2 separate regions of the Homo sapiens genome follow, and region 1 is linked to region 2. The links come from fine-mapping of genetic effects on gene expression. A gene starts in region 2. The other region holds a variant in brackets. All regions are shown on one strand. Distances are between the middles of the regions. Region 1 has its middle 33 kb from the start of SLC4A3. Region 2 holds the start of RESP18 (regulated endocrine specific protein 18).

What was found. PIP is the estimated chance that this variant, and not a neighbour inherited with it, causes the effect.
Region 1: its variant is fine-mapped to the expression of RESP18 in putamen (GTEx, PIP above 0.99).

What each region holds. Positions count from the first base shown.
Region 1 is chr2:219,658,164-219,662,555 of GRCh38, reverse strand. No RefSeq gene overlaps it. Among named protein-coding and RNA genes, the nearest start is that of SLC4A3, 33 kb to the right of the region's middle. RefSeq lists a cis regulatory region at 362-529. The variant T/G (reference allele first, on the strand shown) is at 2,343.
Region 2 is chr2:219,331,072-219,335,463 of GRCh38, reverse strand. It overlaps RESP18 (regulated endocrine specific protein 18), which reads left to right and starts at 2,720. Exons shown (of 6, transcript NM_001441699.1): 1 at 2,720-2,940. The coding sequence starts at 2,835. RefSeq lists an enhancer at 1-741.

The DNA.
Region 1 (4,392 bases), 330 kb before region 2:
GCAGGGAGGGGGTTTATATTTGTCCTTTCCTTTATTCATTCATTCATTCCTTCAAGCAATGGTTATGGGGTACTCACCATGTGCCTATATTCTATAGAGGGATACAGTGCTCTAGAACAGGGCACATCAGAATTACCTGGAGGGCTTGGGAAAACACAGATTCTCAGGGCTAGAATTGGCTTATGAATTTGCATTTCTAACAAGATCCCAGATGATGCAATGCTTCTGGTTCAAGACTACAGTTCAGGTAGCACTGCCACAGAAGGCAGCCCCCACTTGGTGACTGATCTATGATGATTCTGATTCACCAGTCACCTCTGAGCAGCATTCCCTCACCCATGCATGCATTCCTGCTGGCATCAGAGTCTCCACACAGAGAGTATTTCCTCTGGAATACTCTTCAATACTTGTACTTCCTTACAAAGCTTGCCTGACTTCATCACAGCCTCCCTACCCAGCACCCTCACTCCACACACACACACACACACACACACACTTCTCTACTTCTGCTCCTTATTTGTTTCTTTCGTAGGACTTTCCAGAATTTGCATGAGGTACTTGTTTACTTGTTTCTCCCCCTAGAATAGAAACTCCATAAAGGTGGGAACAATTTCTCTATAATTTTTCTGTGAATCCCCGTGAGGTGGGAAAAATTAAAGAAAGAAAGAAAAATAGAAATTAAAAAAGAGAAAAAACAAGCTGCCTGTATTAGGCTGACTCATTTCAAAGGCAGTAACAGGCAACGTTTTGATAATGTTATCTAAGGGCCAGAGCTCAAAGGAATGTGCTCTGAAGACTCTCCTAGTTCTCCCTCAACATAACGATGTGAAGAGATAAGTTTTCCTAGCTCCCCTTTAGTGTAAGTAAACTTCCCCTCGAATCCCATCCCCTCTACTATGTGACTATACCTTGCTCCTTGCTCTGTAAATTTTATGAGTTCCTGTTTTTCCCATAGTTAATGATTGTAGGTTCCTGCTTCTTCACCTAAGCAGTATAGCAAAGGTTACCAGACATGCCTGAGCAGGTCTAGCTTGCAGCCAGCTAGACACCATGGTGGGGGTTGCAAGATGAGTCTTTGTGAAACTCCTTTGAACTAACCAGATAATGACCATCTGGGCTGCATAGTAAGGAGTATACTGAACCTGAGTTATGAGCCTGCCTTAGTTTGATTAATGGCCTTTGTCTTGCCTCTGTACATTCGTGTTCGTGCCACTTAGGAGTGGGTATATAAGCAAAACCTTGTCTTTGTTCAGGGTCCAGTCTTTGGACGTTGAGTCCACTGGGTCTGAGGACACTTAATAAAAGATCCTCCTGTGTACCCTGAGGTCTCTCTTGCCCTCCTGATTTTCTGCAATACCCAGTGTCTAGCAAAGAGCTTGGAAGATAGCAGGTGCCCAATAAATGTGTTGATCCATTAACTAACTCTTCTGACAATATTTGGTGAGTGCTCACTCTGTGCCAGGAACTCTTCTAGGTGCTGGGGATACAACAGTGGACAAAATTGACCCAAAAAACCCTCAGTTAGTGGAGAATACATTTTCATGGGGGGAGCCTGATAGTAACCAGGGAGTGTGATAAATGATTATATTGTATAAGACACTATAAGGTGTTAAGTGCTATAGAAAAAAAGTGAGCAGAGCAAGGGAGCAGGAATGCTTGCAGTGGGGAGCTGGGCTGTGGGTTGAGATTTTAAATTGAGTGGTCAGTGTGGGCCTCATGGAAATAGTGACATATGAGCAAAGATTCAGGAGTTGAGGGAGTTTGCCAAGTGGATATCTTTGGAAAGAGCTCTCCAGACAGTTTAAAGTCCTTAAGGCAGCACTGTGCAATGGAACTTTCTGGAATGATGCTTTCTACCTGTGCTGTGCAATACAATAGCTACAGGCCACCTGTGGCAATTGAGCACTTGAAACGTGGCTAGTGCAACTAAGGGACTCAACTTTTTTCTTTCTTTCTTTCTTTCTTTCTTTCTTTCTTTCTTTCTTTCTTTCCTTCCTTCTTCCTTTCTTTTGAGAAATGCTAGAATGCAGTGGCACAATCATGGCTCATGCAGCCTCAAATTACTGGGCTCAAGTGATTCTCCCACCTCAGTCTCTCCTCCTACCTTTATGAGGAAAAGAGGTTTAATTGACTCACAGTAGCTAGGACCACAGGCACACACCACCACACTCAGCTAATTTTTAAATTTTTTGTAGAGACAGGGTCTTGCTGATATGGTTTGGCTCTGTGTCCCCACCTAAATCTCATCTAGAATTGTAATCCCCATGTGTCAAGAGAGGGACCTGGTGGGAGGTGATCGGATCATGGGGGTGGTTTCCCCCACGCTGTTCTCGTGATAGTGA[T/G]TGAGTGAGTTCTCACGAGATCTGATGGTTTAAAAGTGTTTAGCAGGTGCCCCCTCACTCTCTTTTTCCTGACGCCATGTAAAGAAGGTGCTTGCTTCTCCTTCACCTTCCACCATGATTGTAAGTTTCCTGAGGCCTCCCCAGCCACACGGAACTGTGAGTCAATTAAATCTCTTTCCTTCACCTGGGATTACAGAGGTGAGCCACCACGCCCAGCCTCAACTTTTAATTTTAGTTGATGTTAAGTAGCTGCATGTGGCTAGTGGAAATGACTCAAGCAGTACAGCCCTAAAGCATGAACAGGTGAAGGAATTAAGTGTGGCACAGCGGAGGGGGCTGGGGAATGGTGGGAGATGAACTCAGAAAGGCACAACAGGATGGAGAAGGACTTTATTGGTCATTGCAAGGACTCTGGCTTTTATCCCAAGTGAGATGGGAGCCATTGGAGGGTTCTGAGAAGAGCAGGGATATGATATGATTTCTGCTTTTAAAGGATTCCTTTAGCTATGCTTTGAGAGTAAACACAGAGGGGCTGAGGGTAGATGGAAAGAGACCAGTTGGGAGGCTGGGAGAGGCAGCCAGGTGAAAGACAGTGGTGGATCAGACCAGGATGCAGCAGTAAAGGAGATGCTAAGTGTCAGGTTAGAGATAGATTTTGAAGGTTGAGCCCCCAGGATTTCCTGGCAGATGCTGATTAAAGCATATATTAAGCTCCTAATATATGCCAGGCACTAGGTATGAACTACTTCTGATCCAGATTTGCCAGAGAAATGTCACCCAGGCTTTGACTGGTACCAGCTATTCCTAAGACTGATTGCACCACAGGGCATTTCTCACTCTCAATGTCCCACAATTTGGTCTTCAAACATTGCCTCTTCAGATCAGAGCCAATATAGCCTGCTGGCACTGTGAAATTTGTTGTTATTCTTATTATTATTCACCCAGCATCACTGCATGGTATCTACATTAAGGAAATAGATGACTTGAGTCCTCCATAAATCCTTCATTCTCCTGCTTTATTTCCCTGTCCATCACCTCCTCATTTATTCTTAATATTCAGGTTTTTGCATTCAAGGCCGGGCCAGCTCTCTTGAGGACATCCATCTTCTTCCTTGCACATCTGCCCTGTCCTCCTGAGACTCACACAGCCTGAGGATGGGAAATTGAGTCATCTGTCTTCTGTAACCATATGGATAAGATGTAGTCATTACCGTTCTTAGCATTGTTGTGCTTTGGAAGCTAATTAAGACAATTAGCTATTAAATACCAAAAACAATTAAGCTAATTGAAATAAACCATATGCAGTTTACAACCTTGCGTAGACAAAAAATTAACATGTGGCTGAATGGTAGCACTACAGACACTCCCATGCCAAAATAAATCAGGGACTATGGGAATCAAAGACGGAGGTGTCTTTGCACCCAATCCGTTTACCACCACAAAATGTTTCTCAAAAACATTCGGCTTGATTTTTGGAGGTTTCTTGTATTCTGAAAAAGAAAAAAGTGCATTCCCGTCCAGATGTTTCTTTCAGGCTGTAAAACAGCAGAATCATGCTGTTTCCCTGCCTCTGACTCAACTCTGTGGCTGGATGCAGCACAGAGGAGAAAGGCAGCTTCTCAGGGGACCTCTGAAGCCTATCTTTCAAAGTTAACCAAATCTCTAGGTGGAAAGGTGTCCCATGGTTTTAGGTTGCGACTGGAAGTTTTAGATCACATTTATAGTTTCCAGAGTGGAGCCAGAGGAGGAAAGAGAGGCTATATGGATGAGGGGTGCTCTGTAGGGAATGTGTTTATCTGGAATTTTTTCAGCTGCTTGTGCCAAACAACTCAACTAGAATTTGCCTAAACCGAAAATGGAATTTAGCTAGGGAGGACAAGCTGCAGGGACCAGGAACTTAAAGGTTCCCAGGGACTCAGCCCAAAAAAGATTCTGTCTGTCTGTCTGTCTCTTATCTCTGCCCGGTTCTGTGTTGGCCACACTGTGGCTACAGAGAGGTCCCCCCTCTCTGTGAGGCAAGGACCACGGATGCTGCCAGTGCCAGTTTCGT
Region 2 (4,392 bases):
TCGGAGCCAAGGGGAGGCTAGCTGTCAGGTGGTTGCTGAGTCACTATTCCTCAAGACTTGCCCAAGTCAAGACTGCAACTAGAGGCCCTTATATAGTGGGGTGAGGGGAGCTTACACTGTGGAGGGGGAGCCCCTGGCACATATACACACAAATTCCAAATCCGATTTTCCTCCCATTTTAGAGCTTCTTTGAACTGTTTCCTTCTCTGAGCAAAACTTTGTCACAGATTGAGGCCTTCCTCCTCTCCCAGCCCCATTACCCTGCAGAGAGGCAGTTTTAGGACAACTTGCTACTGGATTTTTTAAAGTGAGTTTTCATGAAAATTCTTTAAGCAGGCTTGTCTGCAAGTAAGACAGTGGGCCTCAGCCAGAGCTTCTGAATTAAAATATGTAAAGCCAGAACAGAGAGGACATTTGGGGTGGGGATTGAAATAGTAAAACTCCTTGGTACACATGGAGCCTAGGCTTCTGATCTCCTTCTCCTTCCGGACATCATTTGTAACATGAATGTAAGACAGAGTAGGACCACAGCTGAATTACAATCTTCCTTCGCCCACTCTCCCCAGCTACACTTTATGGTAGTCTTTCTTTCTTCTTGGGAAAGAAAGTTCCTTCCTACGAACCCCTGGTTCAATAGGCCTGAAAACCTGCTAAGTCTTCTGAGGGTATTACTCTTAGCATTAGAATCCCTTCCAATGAACAGTAAAAAGAAGAGCAGCATCAATGCTCCTGTACATTTATCATTTTGATAGCCATTCTCCTGGTGGTTTAAAATCTTAAAATACAGAGAGGAGCACACTCACCTTTGTTCAGCCGACCCAAAGACCAATATTTCCCTTTTTCCAGGAGCATTATACTTCACAAAGCAGGTTCACGTTCATTTGCTCTTAGGCCTCAAATTATTGCTATAAATTTATTTTAAAATAGCATGTCCAGTACATAATCAGTGACAACCAGATAAACCTCTAGTTTTTGGCGTGACAAGACAGAAACTTGTGTCGGATCCTCCTAACATTGGGTATATACTCTAGGCAAAATATAAAAATAACTGTATGAAAGCATGGAGACTGATCAAGAGTTAGAAACCTACAGGGAGTATAGTCCTCAAAAAAAGGAAGTCCACCAAGTGACTTATACATGTATAGGCTTTTCCTCTGAAGATACTTCAGAGTTCACTGCAGTACACAGGGAAACAGCTCTGTCAGCAACTGGCAGTCTTACTAAGGAAACAGCTTTTGGAGTACAGAGATGCCAGAGCATCTGGAAATTGAGGAAGAAATTTAGAAAATGAATAAATTACAGAGAGAGGAACTCAAAATCTGCATCCTAACTCCCCTCCAATTCTTAGCTATCTTCTAAATGGCACTTGCGCAGGGTGAGATTTCAAGGAACCTAGTGAAAAAGTCAAATATCTGAACAGAGATTTTGGCAGCTGTCACAGTGTTAGGGTGACTGAGTTTGGAGTTCAGGACCCGTAAAATAGAGAGTTTTGGTAAATGACTTTGGGTTATGTTGAAATCCAAAAAGGACCACACCTTAGCCATAAGCACCATATCCCAGGACTAAGAGATACAGGCTAGAATTGAGAATAGGATGAAGTACTCCTTCCCTAACCAGACTGCCACAGGATCAAGACTTTTTACCAAAAATTTAATTGCCTGCCAGAACAAACTCAAACTATTACCCTTTAAAGATAATAATATAATTCAGATCCTTTGTAATGTATCAACCCCAAATGTTCACTATACAAACCCTTAGGTTTAAGTAATCCACTATCTCGACCTCCCAAAGTGCTGAGATTACAAGCATGAGCCACCATGCCCAGTTTAATAAATGTTTTAAGCTTAATGAAAAAAAATTTAAATGCCAGTCTAAGAGTTAGAAAGCTCACAAACTAGCTTGTAAGTACACAAGAGTGAAAGCAAGAGGTCAGTTAGCTAGTTAGTTACTACAACAACTCAATTTAAAAGAGTACAGTGTCCAAGGCCTGGCATGGTGGCTCATGCCAGTAATGCCAACACTTTGGGGGGCCAAGGTGGGAGGATTGCTTGAGCCTAGGAGTTTGAGATCAGCCTGGGAAACATGGCAAAACCCTGTCTCTACAAAAATAAATAAATAAATAAATAAAATTGGCTGGGCATGGTAGTGTGCACCTGTAGTCCCAGCTACTCTGGAGCCTGAGGTTGAGTAGAGGTCGAGCGGAGGTTGTGGTGATCTGAAATTGCAAGACTGTCTCAAAAAAAAAAAAAAAAAAAAGTACAGTGTGCAGTGGTTTGGACCAAGGCGATGGCAGTGGATGTGGAGTAAAGTGGATGGATGTGCCATATATAATATATAATATATAATATTATATATATATATATAGCAGATCGAACCTATATGATTTCTAAAGGGTTTTAAGTGGGCCAGAGTAAAGAGTGTCAAGGATAATAAAATAAACTAAATTCCTTGAGTGCCTACTGTTTCATCGCTGTTCATATTTGATTCTCACAACAAACCTGAGTAGGTACAACTTGCACCCGTATCTTACGTGCCATCCGTTTCTGCAGCCTTAGGACTGGGAGTACAGGCGGTGGTTCTTGGGACCCAGCTAATGCCCGAAAGGAGCCGGGTCAGGAATTCCAAGAGATGAGGGTGGGGAGGCGGTAGGGGAAGGAGCTGGGGAGGCGACCGCAGGGGCAGGGCCCGCTCACGATTGGCTGAACTGCCGAGGAGGGTTAAACAGATTCGGAGTCGCGGGCTGGTGGGAAGCTGCAGCCCCGCTCAGCCCCTCGGCCGTGGCCGCTACCTTCACTGAGACTTGGCCGGGGAGTGAGCGCGCCGAGCCTGGGAGGATACAGCACCCACTGTGGCCTGGGAGCTCCGAGGGGCTCCAGCTGCTTGTCTGCTTCCTGCTGCTGAACAGCTGCCCGGGGGGCTGCAGCGACACTAGTGCCCACGGTCAGGAGGAACCCTGGGGGGTGCGGGCAGGGCCAAGAAAGCGATCCTGAGAAGTGGGGGTCTGCAGGGGGCCTCAAGGCTAGGAAACTTGGAAGTAAAAGAATGTGCTTAAGGACGTGAGAAGAGAAAAAGGTAGACAGCGTCTAGCGGAAAGAGGCATAGGCTTCAGATAGGCTGGGCATATGGGGTCTGGACTCACGAGAAGTGGGTTCAGGTGAAAATTGGGGATTTGGGAAGAGGTCAGAAAGACAAATGAACAGAGAGAGGTAAAACTGGCCTATGTGGCCACAGGAGAAGCAAGAAAGGCCAGAAAAAGAGTTGACCAGGGCTGCGGGTATCGGGGTCTTGGCTCCAGGGAGAAGGCTGGGCCAGGAGACGAGCCAGGGCTTCCTCGTGCTGTGATCCGGTTTCCAATAAGGGGACCGCTGAGGGAAAGCAGGATGGAGGGGGAATGGGACCATCCTTCTCCCCTTCCCCCGCACCAATCCGCGTAGACCCCGCGCTGACTCACGTGCCAGACTGCGCACACTCGAGAACTCCTGCGCAGAGCGCATGGGGAAGAGAGCGCAAACTCCTAGTCTGTCGCCCCCTCTCCCTGATTTTTGGTTTTAGAGGCCAATGCAGCGGATTCAGGAACAGCTGTGGGAGGAGGCCTGGTGGCAATGAGAGGATGAGGGCCGTGGGGAAGGACCGCCAAGCCTTGCGGAGATGTCTCGCCCACATTCCGCCCAGCGCCGCCGCCACGCTGGCCTCCCCACCTCTCAGCACCACGGACAGCGCCAGGCGCGCTCCGGGTCCACGCCGAGCCCGAGCGGGTCACCACTCCTTCCCACCAGTCCTGGGAACGCTGCCTCAGAGAATCAGCTCCCCTTCCCGAAGCTCTTTCCCTTCTCCTCAGGGTGTTGGAGGTTCCACTACTTCCTTAAGGAGGCTTTCTCATCCCCAAATGTCTCTACTTAAAACTTTGTCACGCTTACCCCCAGGAAATTATTAGACATCCATTTGACTGGGTAGGAGAATTCCCTTTTCTAAAGACCTGTCCAGAATGGCTCATGGTAACTACACTATAGCAAAAAACAGACTGTCCTCCAGCCCTATCTCACTGATCTGGAAGAAGGAAGGTGTGCATAGCATTAGGGGTTCTCTTCCCCAACCCCTGTCCTTCCTCTCATGCACAGTTGGGCAAACTGTGGGCTTCAGGAAAAGGATCCAGAGCCTCAAACCCTAAACAAACCAATACCTTTTCTAATGATTCCAGGCCTCCTCCCTAACACTTCCAGGCTTCAATGACTTCCCTAAGATGAAGCTCACCTGTTTCCCCATGCCCCACCTACCCACCTGATTACTATTCCCATGTGCTCAGCTTTCTGAGCCTCTGCGCATCTGAACTTCTACAGGCTGCTCTTTGTAAATCTGGTTATCTGTAAGTTGGTACCAAGAGTGAATGAGGCC